2 separate regions of the Homo sapiens genome follow, and region 2 is linked to region 1. Evidence: fine-mapped expression QTL. Tissue or cell type: whole blood. Region 1 holds a variant in brackets; the other region holds the start of a gene. All regions are shown on one strand. Distances are between the middles of the regions. Region 1 has its middle 37 kb from the start of CHST2. Region 2 holds the start of CHST2 (carbohydrate sulfotransferase 2).

Region 1 (8,334 bases):
TTGCAGTGAGCCAATATCACGCCACTGCACTCCAGCCTGGGTGACAAGAGCGAAACTCTGTCTCCAAAAAAAAAAATATATATATATATATATACATATACAATTATATATACATATGACCACACAGAGTTGTATACCCTAACCAAGGATGCTACATTTTAGAGATGATTTCAGTATTTTCCAAGGTAATTCTGGACATGTGCCATTTTCACCTTATATACTATATTTAGAATCTGGACCCTCACCTAAGCCACAGCTCTGCTCAGCCTGCTTCACACCTGTCTTATGAGGGTCAGTGGAGACAGTGTGTGTGAGCTGCTTTGTAAACTAAATTTGCCAGAAAACCATAGCTTTGTCATAAATATGAAATGTGTATGAACTACTGGACACACAGGAATTACAAAAGAAACTGAGGAGTGAATCATGAAGCACTGTCAGACAAGGCAGCTTCTAAGGAGTCCTGAAGATGTCGTTCTGAATAATTAAAAAGCAAATCTTCCCAGAAGATGTAAGGTTATAGAGCTGAGCTGTGGGCGGGGAGGTCCACACTGGAAGCTCAAAGAACCCCAGGAAATGCAGCTGAGAAGCAGAGCCCTTGGAGGACAGGAATGTCTGGGAGCCCGGAAAGCCACAGGCCTGGGGCCCACCGAGAGGGTAACACAGTGACTGAGAGGTTAAAGTAATTCTGCAAAACAGCTTGTCCCTTAGAGCAGTTTCCCTCCCAAGGACACCATCAGCAGGAAATCATGGGGCGGTCGTGAGAGACCGAAGTCCCCCGGGGAGAGGTTAGGTATCCTATAGAGAAACACAGGGGTGAGGACGGACAGCAGCATCCGGCGACTCAGAAGGAATTAAAAAGCCAAATGGCAGAGTGTGTGACATAGATATGAAATCCAGGTTCTATGAAGAGAAACCCTCCTGATTCCACAGCCAATGAGAAGGTGAGCTTCCAAATCCTGTTCGTGGGATCCGTGGGTGACCCCTAGTACCAGGACACAGTCAAGAATTTCTGTTTCCACAAGCAAAGTTAAGTGGAGAATTCAGCAAATCTGTTGGGAAACCAGGGACAAAGAACTCGGACTTTTTCAAAAAAGGGCTGTCTGTTGTTTCCTTCAGCTAAATTATGAGAATACATTCTCAGCTCTACCTTGTAAAAATGAAAAGAGTCTTGCAGGGAAGGACAAGTCTCACCATTTCAGAAACTCAAGAAGCAGTTTGATTGTCAAATCAAATCAGTCTATAAACATTTTTCTAAAAGTCTCCTCAGGTCTTTGCAATCTTTTAGAATTATCTGAAGAAAACAACAGCAATGGGGAATCTCCTACCAGATATGAAGAAATTTGCTTAAAATATATATGTACATGCACAGCAACTCAATTACCCACACCAATGTAATTTTGTTTTTCCTTACCAATGTAAGGAAAAACAGGAAATTCACAAACAGCTATGAAGCCACACAATATCAGTGGCCACCATTTACTAAGGTCTTGCCCTAGCAAGGAAGGACTTACGACAAGCACCTCACATACAGGAGCTCATGTAATCCTCCAGAAAACTCAGTGTTAATAACAACACTGGCAACTTATGCACATTATTTCATTTAGTTCTCAGATCAAATCTTGGAAGAAGGTACTACCATTATCCCATTTTACTGATAAGGAAAAGATGAAAAGACACTAAGTAACTTGCCCACGATCATATAGCTAATGAGTGTGCACCAGAGAATCAACCCAAGTATCTAAACCCATTGCTCCTACCTCTGACTCTGCTAGACCCTCTCCATATTTTACAGATTAGGCAACTGAGCCTTAAAGAAGTTAAATAACATCAAAGAATATATAGCCAGTGTGTGGTCACATCAGGATTTGAACTCCAGTCATTCTACTTACAAAGCTTATGCTCTTAAGCTTGGTATTAGATTAAACTGACTCTCATACCCAACCTAATTTCTAGTTGGATGTTATTTGAGGTTTTCATAAAATGTGAAATTGGGAAAATCCTAGTGCTTCAAACCAACACCCAAGCCCTATAGCAGAGGGCTGGTTGAAAAGAGCTGGGATAAATGTCTGAGGGACCTGTCCTGACCATAGGTTTTGTACTGCCCTGAAGGATGGCCCAGAACACCACTCAGACAACAGCAAAGCCAACCCCACCTGCTCATAACAGCCCTGGCAGTGAGGATTGGAATACTTGTAGGAAACATGGAAAAGGGGAGTCTATTGTTTTGTTGTTTTATTGATAAATTAACTTATTTCTCACATTAAATGGGAGGAAGATGAGTACCTCATAGAATGTAGTGAACATCTGCTGTTTGGGGTTTACCACCTGCTCCCACTGGGGACTCTCTATTCAAGGTGTTCTGCCTTCCCACCAAAGATGAGCATGTGACCCAGGCTATGGCCAAGGGAAACCCTCAAGAATTGAATCTTGAGGGGAGAGACACATAAAGAAGTTTCTGGACTTGACTCATCCTAGCAGCCATGCCCTGGACACAGTGATGGCTGGTTCCTGTTACTGTGCTTCCTGGGGTTTCCCCAGTCACTGTTGTCCCGAAACAAGATCCAACAGCTGCTCCTTTAATTCTGTGAGCTGCCTCATAGCCTCCAGCACATTTCTTTTTCTCTTACGTTAGCTAGGATTGGTTCCTGTTGCCTGCAACCAAAAAAAATCCTAACTGAATTTCAAGTGACCAGGGAGATGCATCATTTGGCACTGGTGAACTGCATCAGAATCCACTACAGAAATCAAGAGGTGACTAATGTGGAAGAGCTAATGTGTGGAGAACTGTGGGCTATTTCAGGAGACAAGGACATGAGGGAATCAGCTCTGATTGCATTGGGTTTCTGCACAGTTCTACACCCCTGAAATCTTCTGTCCCTTGCATGATTCACATCTTTCACTGTTATTCACCATTTAAACCCCCAGATTTGTTGTCCTATGATAAGTGGCTCAGCTGTCTAGAACATGATGCTAATGAGGGCAGCACTTCTGACTTGATTCTTGTGGGCCAGTTACCTTAGTTCTGAGTCACAGACACTTGAAACCTGGTCAAAGCTCTTTTGACATTTCATGGAGCCAAAGTAATGAGGTTGATGGACAGCACTAATCAGTGCCACAAATTCAGGTTCAGCTCATATTTCTTAAGGCCCTTCTCCATGCCAGGTAGTGCATTAGGCACTCCAAATGCATGACCTCATTGGCTGTCCAGTAAGCACTGTGACAAATGAACTTAACTGAATTACAAATGAATGACATAACTACATTGAAGAAGGTGAGGAAGAAAGGATCTGAACTAAGTCACTTTGGAAAACAGTATCTTGACTGGACACTATAAGGCTAAAGACAAAAAGAATGTACATAAATACTGTACTCTAGTTGGTAAATTTGTTTCTCACAAGCGTGCTAAGTTAGCAATTCTGAAACTACTTTGTGTGCTAGTGTTGAACATTATAAGTAAACATATTATAGATAATGAAAACCAAGTTTCTTTCTGTTAGAGAAAGAAGTTATCAATAAAGAAAGGGAGATGGCTAGAATAAACCCTGTGGGGCTGGATTGGAGCCAGAGATAGCAGTGTGAACTTATGGCTATTTTATTTTATTCTGGCAAAATATACATAACATAAAACTTACCATCTTAATCCTTTTTAGGTGTACAATGCAATGATATTAAGTACATTCACATCGTTATGCAACCATCACCATCTACCTCCAGAATTTTTCTATCCTTCTGAACTGAAATGTTCATGCCCTTTGAACAATAACTCCCCATTGTCCCCTCCATCCAGCTCCTAGTAACCACCAGTCTACTTTCATTCCTCTATGAACTTGACTATTCTAGATACTTCATATAAGTGGGATCACGTAACATTTATCCTTTTGTGTCTGGCTTATTTCACTTTGCATAATGTTTTCAAGGTTCATCCATGTTGCAGCATGCATAAAAACTTCATTCCTTAAGGTTGTATAATATTCCATTGTATGCATATGCCACATTTTGTTTATCCATTCATCCATTAATAGGCATTTGAGCTTCTTCCACCACCTTTTGGCTATTGTGAATAATGTTGCTATGGACTTTACAGTACAAATGTCTGACCAAGTCTCTGCTTTTGATTCTTTGGGGTATATACATAAAAGTGGAATTGCTGGATCATCTGGTAGTTTTACATTTCACTTTTTTTAGGGACTGCCATATTGTCTTCCACAGTGACTGCACCATTTTATACTCCCTAAGGCAATACGCAAGGGTTCTAATTTCTCCATATTCTCACCAACACTTGTTTTCTGTTTTGAGGATAATAGCCATCCTAAGAGGCGTGATGTGGTACCTCATTGAGGTTTCAATTTGCATTTCCCTAATGATTTCTGATGTTGAGTGTTTTTTCATGTACTTCTTGGCCATTTGTATATCTCCCTTGAAGAAATATCAGTATCAAGTCATTTGCTCATGTTTAATTGAACTGCTTTGTTGTGGTGGTTTTTACTAAGTTTTTGGAGTTCTTTAAATATCCTGGATATTAATCTCTTACCAGTATATGATTTACAAAAGTTTTCTCCCATTTTGTAGGTTGCCTTTATCTTCTAGATAGTATCCTTTGATGCACAAAAAATTAATTTTGATGAAATCCAATTTATCTATTTTTTGGCATAATATCCAAGAAATCATTGCTAAATCCAGTCACTAAGCTTTTCTCGTGTGTTTTCTTCTAAGAGTTTTATAGTTTTAGCTCTTATGTTTAAGTCTTCAATCCATTTTGAGTTAACTTTTGTGCAGGGTGTAAGAAGTATTTCATGATTTCAAAATTTTGTGCGTGGCATAAGGAGTATTTCCTGATTTTAAAGTATCAGGAAATATTTCCAAAAGCTGATACCTCCAGCTTTATTGTTCTTTTTCAAGATTGACTTCGCTACTCATGGTCTTTTGTGGTTCTATATAAATTTTGGAATTTTTTTTATTTCTGTAAAGAAAGTGCCATTGAGATTTTGATAGGGATTGTTTTGAATGCATAGATCACTTTGGGTAGTATGGGCATCTTAACAATATTAAGTCTTCCAATTAATTAACATGGGATATCTTTCCATTTATTTACATCTTCTTTGATTTCTTTCAGCAATGTTTTGTAGTTTTTAGTGTTCAAATCTTTTACCCTCTTGGTTAAGTGTATTCCTACTATTTTATTCTCTTTGATGTTAATGTAAACGGTCCTTTCAGATCGTTCATTGCTAGTCTATAAAAATGCAGCTGTTTTCTTGGTGTGGTGATTTTGTAACCTGCAAGTTTGCACGATTCATTT[A/T]TTACTTAACAGTTTACTTGTGCAATCTTTAGAATTTTCTACCTGTAAGTTTACGTCATCTGTGAACAGAGATAATTTTACTTCTTCCTTTCCAATTTGAATGCCTTTCATTTCTTTTTCTTGCCTAGTTGTTCTAGCTTGCCTAATTGCTGTAGGACTTCCAGTCCTGTGTTAAATAGAAGTGGTGAGAGTGACTGAGTATGATGCATTGGATTTTGAAATAGAAATAGACACTTAGTAAAAAAAACAAAAACTGGGAAAATTCTAATAAAGCCTATAGTTTAGTTAATAGTATTATACCAGTGTTCATCTCTTAGTTTTCATAATTATACTGTAGTTATTTAAGATTTTAATGCTAGAGGAAGCTTGGTAAAGAGTATATGGGAACCCCGCACTATTTTTGTAACTCCTCTGTAAATCATAAATGATCTCAAAATAAGTTTTTTAATATCTGAAGGAAAATAAAAGCATACAGAGTAAATACATTGGGAGTCCTGAAATATCTTTCTAGGCAAATAAGGCATACTTTCACTTTTCATTAGTTAATTACCCATAGTAAGTGTCCACCACCTCTGCCACTCTGGTATATAAAGTCCTAGAGGGCAACTGGCCAGACATCACATTAAAGAAGCACTATGGCACTGGACTGAGTCAATTCTGAATTTCAGCTTTGGGGATTTCTCAGGGCAAAGTTGTTTAATATCTCTGAAATATGAAAATATCTTTCCAGGATTGTTGTGAATATTAAATAAGGTCATGGTTAAAAAAGCACTTAATCCATGGCAGGTATTTAATAAATATCCTTTCTTTTCTCTTGTTTTAAACATTTAAGACTACAAAGGGAAAACGAGATATGGTACCTTTCACATAAGGGCCTTACATTCTAAATTGGGACAAAATGTACACATATGTTAAATAATTATCAAATAATAGCTTTACATTCTATTACAAGCAAGTGCTAAGATCCAGTAGCGAGTGGGACAGTGTGCAGCAGAGCACAGCACACACAAAAGTAGAGAAATGTGAGCTGGCATCCCCGGGGCAGCCTTCAAAGGAGTGGGGCTGTACTGAGCTTGGTGTGCACAGATAAGAAAATGTTGGGGGTGGTCGGGTGCGGTGGCTCACACCTGTAATCCCAACACTTTGGGAGGCCAAGGTGAGTGGATCACCTGAGGTCAGGCATTCGAGACCAGCCTAGCCAACATGGTGAAACCCCGTCTCTACTAAAAAATACAAAAAATTAGCCAGGCCTGGTGGTGGACACCTGTAATCCCAGCTACTCAGGAGGCTGAGGCAGGAGAATCACTTGAACCCAGAAGGCAGAGGCTACAGTGATCCACTGTACTCCAGCCTGGGCAACAGAGCGAGACCCCATCTCAAAAAAAAAAAAAAAAAAGAGGAAAAAAGAAAAAAAGGAAAAGTTTGGGGCTGAGAGAGGCAATTGAGCCTAGGACAGGAAGAGGCAGAGACCTGAAGATACAAGTATATCTGGGTGGGTACCAGATAGTTCCACATTGCAGATACAGCAGATCAGTGGGAGACACATTCATTTGGAGCATGGAATAGATGTGAGGAACCAGGGGAACCATACTGACTAACGGGGAATGGAGCCAAATTCTGGAAAACCTGAAAGGCAGGCTGAGGGATTCTTTTCTCTTTTTTTTTAAACCGGGTCTCACTCCATCACCCAGGCTGGAGAGCTGCAGCACCGTCATAGCTCACTGCAACCTCGACCTCCCAGGCTCAAGCAATCCTCCTACCTCGGCCTCCTAACTAGCTGGGACTATAAGCATGTGCCACCATGCCTGGCTAATTTTTGTATTTTTGTAGAGACAGGGTTTCACCATGTTGCCCAGGCTGGTCTTGAACTCCTGGGCTCAAGTGATTCGCCTGCCTCAACCTCCCAAAGTGCTGGGATTACAGGCGTGAGCCCTCATACCCAGCAGGCGGCTGAGTCATTCTTGATGGCAGAGGCAAGAGCAGCTGTGGTGGATCCTTAAGTAAAGATGGAGCTCAAGGTAAGCATATAATGCTTTAGTTTGATCTGTGTTTGGTAGTCACAGAAGTGTTTTAAGCAAAGGAATCATAAGATCATAGCACGGTATCTTGAGCAGAGTTCTGTTGCAGGAAATCAAAACCACTTTGCCAATTTTAAGCAGAAATGTTAAATGCCTATAAAGTCATTGAAAGGGCTGCAGGACTGAACTCTAGGCCATTCTGTTAGAGGGATTGTAAATTGGTGAAGACTTTTTGGAAAGCTGTTGGATGACATCTATCAAAACTATAAACATGTATTATATTTGATTCAGTAATCGCATTCTAGAAAAAACTCAATTTTTAGAAAAATGTATTCTAGAAAAAAATTGACATATGAACATAAATATACAAGGTGTTCATGGGAATATTTTTTCTACTAATGAAAAATTAGGAACTCTCAAATGGAAGAGATTAAATAAAATATAGTATAAAAATATTATGCAGTCATTAGAAGAATATATTGAACCTTTATGGAAAGTTATCCCAAATTGTTCATTGAAAAAACAAGTCACAAAGCAAAATTCATAGTATTCCCATTTATGTGTTTTAAATGTGTACAGACTATACAAATGCAAAGCAGTGTTCATAGTGCTTGCCCCTTGGAGTAAAGCAAGAGTGATGGGGGCCTGCAGTGGACGAGTCTATCATGTTTTCCCCTGAATATTCCTGCCTTGTTGGAGTCTTTCATGAGAAGCATGCATTCATGTATTACTTGTGTGGTAAAAACATCAGTAACTGGTCACCTCCTTCAAACTCCTCCCTCAAACGCATTAAAGAAAACAAACCTGCACTTAATTCAGATCATGATGGGGCTGAAGGAGTACTGACATTCCTATCACATGAGAAATGAACCAGTGTCCATCTCAGGTAAGATGATGGCTGAAATGGAACAGCAGGCCAGTTTCTCATGATTTTGCTCTAGAGGACTGGGGCAGGAGGGAGGAGGGAATTTAATTTTTCTTTGGTGTGCCAGAAAAGGTAGTAGTCTGTACCAAAGGGGG
Region 2 (8,334 bases), 38 kb after region 1:
CTGTCTGCAGCATGTTACTTTCTTTGCAAATTTACTTTTAGGAAACATGATAAAGAAAAGCAACATATTCCACAGGCATCCCAAGTAAAGCATTATAAATTCATATTCTCTCTTGCACTGATTTAAATGGGAAGCAAGTAAGAAAAGGGAAAACCCTTACGGTTCTCAGATGAAACTTCGCTGCTTTCATCCACCTCCACATACCGTGTCAGGGTCAGAAAAACACTCCAAATAGATACTTCTGTCACTTTGCTAAACCAACGAAGCTGCTACCATCGCCAGCAGTATGTTCACGCTACTTTCCTGAGGTCTGTGTTCTAATCATCAGAACTTTTAAAAATTACATACTTTTTTTAAAAATCCTTTTTCTGAACCAGCCTCAGCACCAAAACATTGGTCTCTGCTTCAAGGTTCCCCATTTTAACTGAAGAGGAATGAAAAACCAAATGCCTTCAAGTCCTGAAGGAGTTGCTTCTTCCTGTGTTCAAAGTTGAAGAGAGTAGTGTGCTTTTTCTTCCACTGCCCTGTTTGGTTTCTGCCTTTAGAATACAAAGATGTGTTTCACTCCTGGACACCTAACAGGCTGAGATTTACATGTGAGAAAACATCCCCCAGGTTATTACCAAGGAGGCAAAAATTGCTCCCACCCAGTTTAGCTGCCTTTCAGGAAAGAGACTGGAAAAATGGAAACGAGGGAGGGGAAGGAGATTCTATCTGAAGCTGAGGACAAGTAACACAGGTGAATCCAAAGTAATGGAGGCAAATATTAAAAAGAATATTATTTATTATCTTCTTTATTAATACTCACATGTAACCTTTGCTTTTTACACAAAAGTCTGCTTTAGAAGAATGCCTCCTCGGCTTATCATGCCCAATGGGGCTTTTTGTTTCTGGACCACTTCCCCTTTCTCCACCCCCACCCCCACATCCAAATTACTCTTAACATGTTCACAGATACCACGAATATTTTGTAAACAAGATTTGGGTTACTGGAACTTGATTTCATTAACATCCCACTTCAAAATGGAAGGCAGGTGGAGGACAGGGTAAGAAATAGGAGAAAGAGGACAAGAGAAGGCAAAGAAGAAGAGGGGCACCTGGTCAGAACGTTCAAGTCTTGCCTTTTCTTAGGGGTGTGTATTTTGTGGCTGTTCCTTGAAATGCACTGACTCAAAACATTGACAGCAAGTGTGTGTGTGATTATTTATATATCTATAATAGAATATGTGGGCTTCCTCCGTTTGAGTCTGGACTGTGTTTATTTAAACACACTACGATCCTCTTTATAGGTATCACCACAGGGAATCAGGTCTCCTGGGAACCCCTTTTAGAGACGGGGCTTCCGAAGCAGGGTCTTGCTGAGGTCTTTGACCTCCTCAGGGCTGTTGACCCGCTCATAGCCCAGGACGGCCATGGGCTGGTAGCAAAACTCCTCCACCTGTTTGATCTGCTGGAAGGTGAGGGCGGTCCGCCAGGCATTGGCGGCCTGCGTGGCATTGCGTGCAGATACCACGAAAGGCTTGGAGGAGGAGCCCGAGCCACTGGTCATGTTCAGGGCAAACTGCTCCATTTCGGGGCTCACCAACAGTCCCACAAAATCGTACACTCTCCGTAGTGTCTTGACGGGGTCTCCCACCAGGTCCTCGTACCGCACCACCAGGTAGTGGCCCTGCAGCCAGTCAGGGGGCTGCAGGGCTGTCTGCAGCGTCTTAGCCATACTATTGCAGATGACCTCCATAGCGCCCAGAGCGTGGTAGTCTGCGGGGCCGCCCACGCCCTCCTTCTTGGCGCCAAGCTTGTGGCCCGCGGCCTCCAAGAAGGGCATGCGGTGAGCTCGCGGGTCTCGGCTGCGCACCACCTGTAGGCTCTCACGGATGAGGCCGTGGCGCGAGCGGATCCGTGAACTCGCCACCGCGCGGGGATCACGCACCAAGTGGATGACCTTGAGGTCCAGGGCCGGGTCTCGCAGCAGTGGCGCCAAGACCGCCACGTCGAAGACGCGCACACCCTTTATGACTAGTGTGCGGTACTTGCGGCACTCCTCCTCGAAACGCGCCAGGCGCTGTGGCGGGCACTTCTTGCACACGCGGTCGTCCACCAACCCCACGACCTCCTTGCGGTAGGCGGGGCAGAGTGGTGACGAGCACACCACCTTGTTGGTGGCTGCGCCGAAGATGCCCAGCGTGGTGAGGTTGCGCCCCCCGCTGCCCGCGGGGCTATACAACTGGAAGACAGAGAGGTCGCAGCGGTAAAGAGCGCTCAGCATGTCCCGCGCTGCCCCCTGCAGGGAAACGGCGTCCCCCGGATACAGTTTTTGCCATACATGCCACACTGGCTCGTAGAGAAAGAACACCTCGGGATTCTGGTTGAATAGCTCGCCGAAGAACGACGAGCCAGAGCGCCACGTGGTGAACACGTACACCAGCTGCCGCTTGTCCCCGACGCCCCCGGTGCCCCGAGTGCCATTGCCTGGAGGGGCCGCAACCCCCGCCATCCCTGCCGCGGCTGCAGGAGCCGCCCCGACGGCGGCAGCGGGAGGGCGGTAAGGAGTGCGGAGGTCCAAACGGGCATGAGCACGGGGCGGCCCGGCCGGAGGCGGCCCTGGGCGCCCCCAGCTGCCTCCGGCTGCCCCCGCTGCGGCACCCAGCGGCCCATCGGGGTTGCACTGCTGCAGCGGCTCCTTGTGCCACTTGTAGTCCAGGAGGTTGAGCATAGTGAGCACCAGCAGCAGTGCATAGCCCGCGCACAACACCAGCGCCTTCCTACGGAACACCTTCATTCCGAGAGGGGACGCGGGCCAGCGGCGTCCTGGGCGCCGGGGCCACTGCGGGAGCAGGGCACGCGGCGCGGCTGCAGGCGCAGCCTGGAGCAGCCGAGGGAGCGCGCCCGGGGGCAGAGCTCGCTGCGGGCTGCGGCTCATCACAGGCACAATCCGGGCCGGCGGCGCGGCGGAGGCAGCCCTGCAGCCCGGGAAGGGGACGCAGCGGGCTGGCTGCTGGCGCCGGGACTCGGGCCGCGACTCCGAGGCGGGCGCGGCGGCTGGTCCCCAGCGCCCAAGGCTGGCTCTCCCATGGCAGCGGCTCCGGGTAGGACCTGCGAGGGGAAGCGGAGTGAGCGGATGCGCCCCAATCTCCCTCCCAGCCTCCTCCTCCTAAGTAACGCCCACCCTCGGTTCTGCCCGGTTCCTCCGCTCACCTGGAGCCGAGGGCGCGCCCGGGAGCGGCCCCGGATCACCGCCCGGCGGACTGTCCGGCTGTCACTCGTTCCTCGATTTCGCTCCCTCTCGCTTCCGCTGGGGGTCCCCGCACCTTCGAGGGGTCTGGGGAGTCGGCCGACTTATCCCTGGGCAGTTTCCGGGCAGCGGGCGCCCTGCGGCTCGGGAAGAAAAACTTTCACGCGGCCCAGAGCCCCGCTCCGCGCTCCGCCGAACCCGGCGCCTCCCGGCTCCAGCGACGTCTCCTCCGCTTTCTCGGGACCGCAGCTTCCTGTCTCGCTCAGGGGAACGAAGCCGGCTGGGGGCGATGGCTGGGGGCGGCTTATATGGGACTCAGCTCCCGGCATAGCGGCGCAGCCCCTCTCGCTTTCGGCCTCCGTGCGGCGAATTTTCCCACCTCTCTGGCAGCGGTGGATGGGGCACAGCGCGACCCCGCAGCGGCGGCGGCGGCTGCTTCCATCACCGGGAGGATGCCCGGGCGGACAGCGCAGGCAACCCCCGCCGCTCCGCAGCCTCCGACTGGACCAAAGGACCCCGAACACACAGCTCTAGGCAAGGAAACCCAGGTGTGCAGCACTGCCCGACCCGACCCAACCCGCCCCCGGTACCAGCGCTTCTGGCCAACGAGGTATTTAAGCAAAGAAAGACCCCGCCGCAGCCGCCGCCGCCGCGCGAAAGCGGCGCCCAGGAGGATGCTGCTACCCGACTCCCCTTACGCCGGGCGCCCGCAACGCGCTCGGACCAGCCTCTGCGCGGCTCCTGCCAGCCGGCGCCCGGTTGGTGCGCGCCGCCGTCTGTCGCCGCGGCTCCTCCCCTCCGCCGCGCAGCCCTCCCCCTTCGCCGGCCCCGCCCCCGCCCCCAACGCCGAGCCGGCTCCCACCGTCGCTGCGCCTCGGGGGCTGGAGACGCGACCCGCTTTACCGCGACGCGCGGGGGCTGCAGTCCACGGGTCCGAAGGCTTAGCTCTGCGCGCAAAGCGCCGGGATGCGAACGCGGGATCTGGAGCTCGTCGGTGCCGAGAGCTGCCAGAGAGTTGGATTCTGCGTGCAGCTGCCGGACTCGGCCCCATGTTTTTGCTCTCAGAAAGAGTTGGTGATGAAGTTTGGGCAGAAATCCCCTGTCGGCCGTCCGCTCCACGCTTCCCTCGGGGCCGACACTGCCAACCTCTCCGGGCACTGAGGACACCTCTGCGCCCTGGAGCGGTGGGAGGACGCGGAGCGCCGTTCTCTGGCTTCCGACACCCTGCCCGCCCTCTCTAGTGGGTCTGTGGCTGCGCCCTCTCGAAGGAAGTAATAAATCTTTCTGACCTTGGGGGTCAGAGGAGACGCTTCAGTTTTCCGGAGGGGTGTGCGGGCGGGACCGTCTTTCCGCTTTACTGGACCTCTGGCCGGGGCTGCTCTTGTTTCATTGTGCCCCACATGCGGAGCCCCGATGCTCTCCGCATTTCCGCTCGCGGTGCTGCGTCCACTGTGATTGACGTCCTCTGGAATTGGGGTGATGGGGGAGGGGAACGCCCCGTTCTAATTTGCAGAAAAATACTTGTCCCGCTTCTTGGTTTTGTAGATGAGATCAAAGAACTTGACCCCAAAGGAAACACCGTTGTTGAAAGAAAATCATTTTTCAGTTGCTTTAGGTTTAAGTACTTTTGTTTAAGGTTATGAGGAAAAGCGTCTCTCTCTCCCCCCAACTCCCTCCCTCCCCAAGAACACTAAGCTGTAGCCTCAACTTCATCTGTAGAATGGGGACAGTTGTAACAGCCTCCGGAGACTGAACGGTGGTTGAGTATCAGAGCGCGCACACGAAAGGTTAGACCTGAGTTCAGGCCTCCAAGTGCCGAAAAGGGAATCTCCGTGGGGCCTGAGGCTCAGCACCCTCGGATAAACAGAGCTCTCGCTGATCCGGAGTTTTGTTGCCTCCTGTCCCAGTAGAGTTTTTAGAAGTTACTGCACAATTATCTTTGTAGCGTTTCGGGCAGACTTTTCAGAGGACCGTTCTAACATTAAAATATTGCTGTTTGCGCCATTATTCTTCCATGAGTCTTACAGAATCCCCTGAGTACAAAGACTTGAAAAGTGACTTAACTCGCTTTCCACGGGTTTTTAACTCTCTTACGGATTTAGTTTCAGGGGAGAAAAATGTTCAAAAAACTTATTTATCCTTGTTTTCCAGAAAAACCCATAATGTCACGAGTACAGTTCAGCTTATTTTTTCTCCTGGGGAGGGGGATTGGGACAAGGACAGCAGAGCTCAAATTTTATATCCAGCTTTCTCAAATAATATGGCATTGCCTCTGGAAGTGGGTCGAGACAGGCAAGAATCCCTGTTAACAGATGAAGGTGGTAGAGTTTAATTGAGCGACTCCCCATCTTTTCCTTTTCTGGAATCCCCAGCCTCCCTTCGCCTACTCTCTCAAATGCCCCTGCCCCTTTTTCACCACCTCTTTTACCACGAAAACTAAAATGACATTGGTGCATGAAAAGACTGATGGGAGAGAGAGGGAATTGGGGAGGAAAGTAAATCTCAATTTTAATATTCAACATGATTCCAAGAAAAATAATTTCTAATATTTTTCATTTAGTTTCTGGCTTTGTGCTTACCCAGAAAAAAACTGAATTGCATTAGTCGATGTAGGGACCCTTTTTAAAAACAATTGTTTGCATAGAAATAATTCCGTTTGCAATTTTGTAACACTTTACTGGTGTTGGCAAAATAGTAAATCCATTTGCCAGGTGCCCCCACAGTGCTCAGCTGGCATAAATTTACGGGTTCTGGCATCTCCACCCTCTCCTTGCTTGCAAATTTTTCCCATTTTGCATGGTGTCATGATTAATTCTGAACTTTGTTATAGCTAATGACATCTGAAAACTTCATAATGCCTTCCTTCCCGCATTTGTTTGGAAATTCCTTTCATTTTAATCTACTTATTTTAGCATAGTAATGACCCAGACATATAATATGTCACATAATAATGTCACTTGCACAAGAGCCAGTCATGCCACAGGGCTAGCCTTAATTTCGGCTCACTGGTTTAGTTTGTCACAATTCCATCTCCCCCAGGATGCTCTTTCAGTCTCTGTCTTCTCTGCTGCCTGTTATGTTCTATTGGAAACTGTCAGGCCTCTGAGCCAAAGCTAAGCCATCATATCCCCTGTGACCTGCATGTACACATCCAGATGGCTGGTCCTTGCCTTAACTGATGACATTCCACTACAAAAGAAGTGAAAATGGCAGGTCCTGCCTTAACTGATGACATTACCTTGTGAAATTCCTTCTCCTGGCTCATCCTGGCTCAAAAAGCTCCCCCACTGAGCACCTTGTGATCCCCCCCTCCACACCTGCCCACCAGAGAACAACCCCCTTTGACTGTAATTTTCCTTTACCTGCCCAAATCCTATAAAACGGCCCCACGCCTATCTCCCTTCACTGACTCTCTTTTCGGACTCAGCCCGCCTGCACCCAGGTGATTAAAAAGCTTTATTGCTCACACAAAGCCTGTTTGGTGGTCTCTTCACACTGATGCGAGTGAAAGAAACTTGCTGTGGCTTTTGCTTAATCCTGGACAAATGTCCAGAGATCTTCAAGGACTTTCTTCCAGAGTCTGAACTGGGGAAAGATGCAAGGCTGGGTTACCTGAACAGTTCCCATTTGGGCCTATCTGTGTGAATCCTAGAAGATTCACCTTTGGAAAATGTTTGCCCCTGGGCACCAAGATAGATTCACTCCCTCATATTTTGAACAAATATGCATTTTCAATAGAACTTGAGATTATAGATTCAGGTTACTCATAATCCTTGATTTAAGATATGCTGCCATTGTTAGTCCAAGTGGCCCTTTTAAATGTCCTATGTTTTAATATAATGAATATGCATGAACCCATTACACAGCCCAAAAACCTCCAAGAGTAACCGCTCTACTTAGTTTAGAAACTGAGATGAAATGATAAAGTTCTAACAGGAAGGAAAAACAACTTGCTTTAACAATCTCAAAAAGATACAAGACTACTTATGGCCGGGCACGGTGGCTCATGCCTGTAATCCCAACACTTTGGGAGGCTGAGGTGGGCATATCACTTGAGCCTAGGAGCTTGAGACCAACCTGGGCAACATGGCAAAACCCCATCTCTACAAAAACTACAAAAAAATTAGCCAAGTGTGGCAGTGCATGCCTGTAGTCCCAGCAACTCGGGAGACTGAGATGGGAGAATTACCTGACCCCAGGAGGTCAAGGCTGCAGTGAGCCATAATGGTGCCACTGCACTCCAACCTGGGCAACAGAGTGAGACCCAGTCTCAAAAAAAAAAAAAAGAAAAAGAGGTTGGGCACGGTGGCTCACACCTGTAATCCCAGCACTTTGGGAGGCCGAGTTGGGCAGATCACCCGAGGTCAGGAGTTTGAGACCAGGCTGAAACCCCGTCTCTGCTAAAAATACAAAAATTAGCCTGGTTTGGTGGTGCGCACCTGTAGTCCCAGCTACTCGGGAGGCTGAGGCAGGAGAATTGCTTGAACCCGGGAGGCAGAGGTTGCAGTGAGCCAAGATCGCGCCACTGCACTCCAGCCTGGGCAACAGAATGAGACTCTGTCTCAAAAAAAAAGAAAAGGAAGGAAAAGAAAGAAAAAGAAGAAAAACAGTACTTACAAATTGAAACAACACTATTACCAGAGGGATTTAAAGGAGGGTTCCACCAAACTTTCAAGAACTAGATTGTTTCAGTCTTATCTCTATCAGAGAAGAGAACAAGAGGGAATATTTCCCCCAACTCATTCAAAGGGGATAATAACTACAGAGGGATTTCAGAGAAGAAATTTGGTACTGTCTCTGATTAATTTATACATAAAACTCTTAAATAAAATATAAGCAAAACAAATCCACTCAAGTGGGGAAAAAAGGACAATAAACTAGAACCAATTTGGGTTTATCCCAGAAATATAAGGATGACAATAAATATTTAGTAAGCACCTATAATGTACCAGGTGCTGGTCTAGCTATGTGAGATGCAAAAGTGAAGCAGACAGGCCTAGACCCTACCTTCATGAAGTTTACACTCTAGAGTGGGAGATACTCAGTGCACACACATTTAAACAAATAAGATTATTTTTGAGAATGGTAAGTACTATAGAAGA

The links. PIP is the estimated chance that this variant, and not a neighbour inherited with it, causes the effect.
Region 2: CHST2 starts here. The variant in region 1 is fine-mapped to the expression of CHST2 in whole blood (INTERVAL, PIP above 0.99).

What each region holds. Positions count from the first base shown.
Region 1 is chr3:143,152,944-143,161,277 of GRCh38, reverse strand. No RefSeq gene overlaps it. Among named protein-coding and RNA genes, the nearest start is that of CHST2, 37 kb to the right of the region's middle. The variant A/T (reference allele first, on the strand shown) is at 5,297.
Region 2 is chr3:143,115,403-143,123,736 of GRCh38, reverse strand. It overlaps CHST2 (carbohydrate sulfotransferase 2), which reads right to left and starts at 3,966. Exons shown (of 2, transcript NM_004267.5): 1 at 3,196-3,966; 2 at 1-3,093. The coding sequence starts at 2,920. The coding sequence ends at 1,328. RefSeq lists enhancers at 364-493, 1,325-1,966, 2,609-3,250, 3,574-3,623, 3,909-4,408 and 2 more and silencers at 2,424-2,783, 2,844-3,043, 3,104-3,183, 3,234-3,283, 3,314-3,363 and 1 more.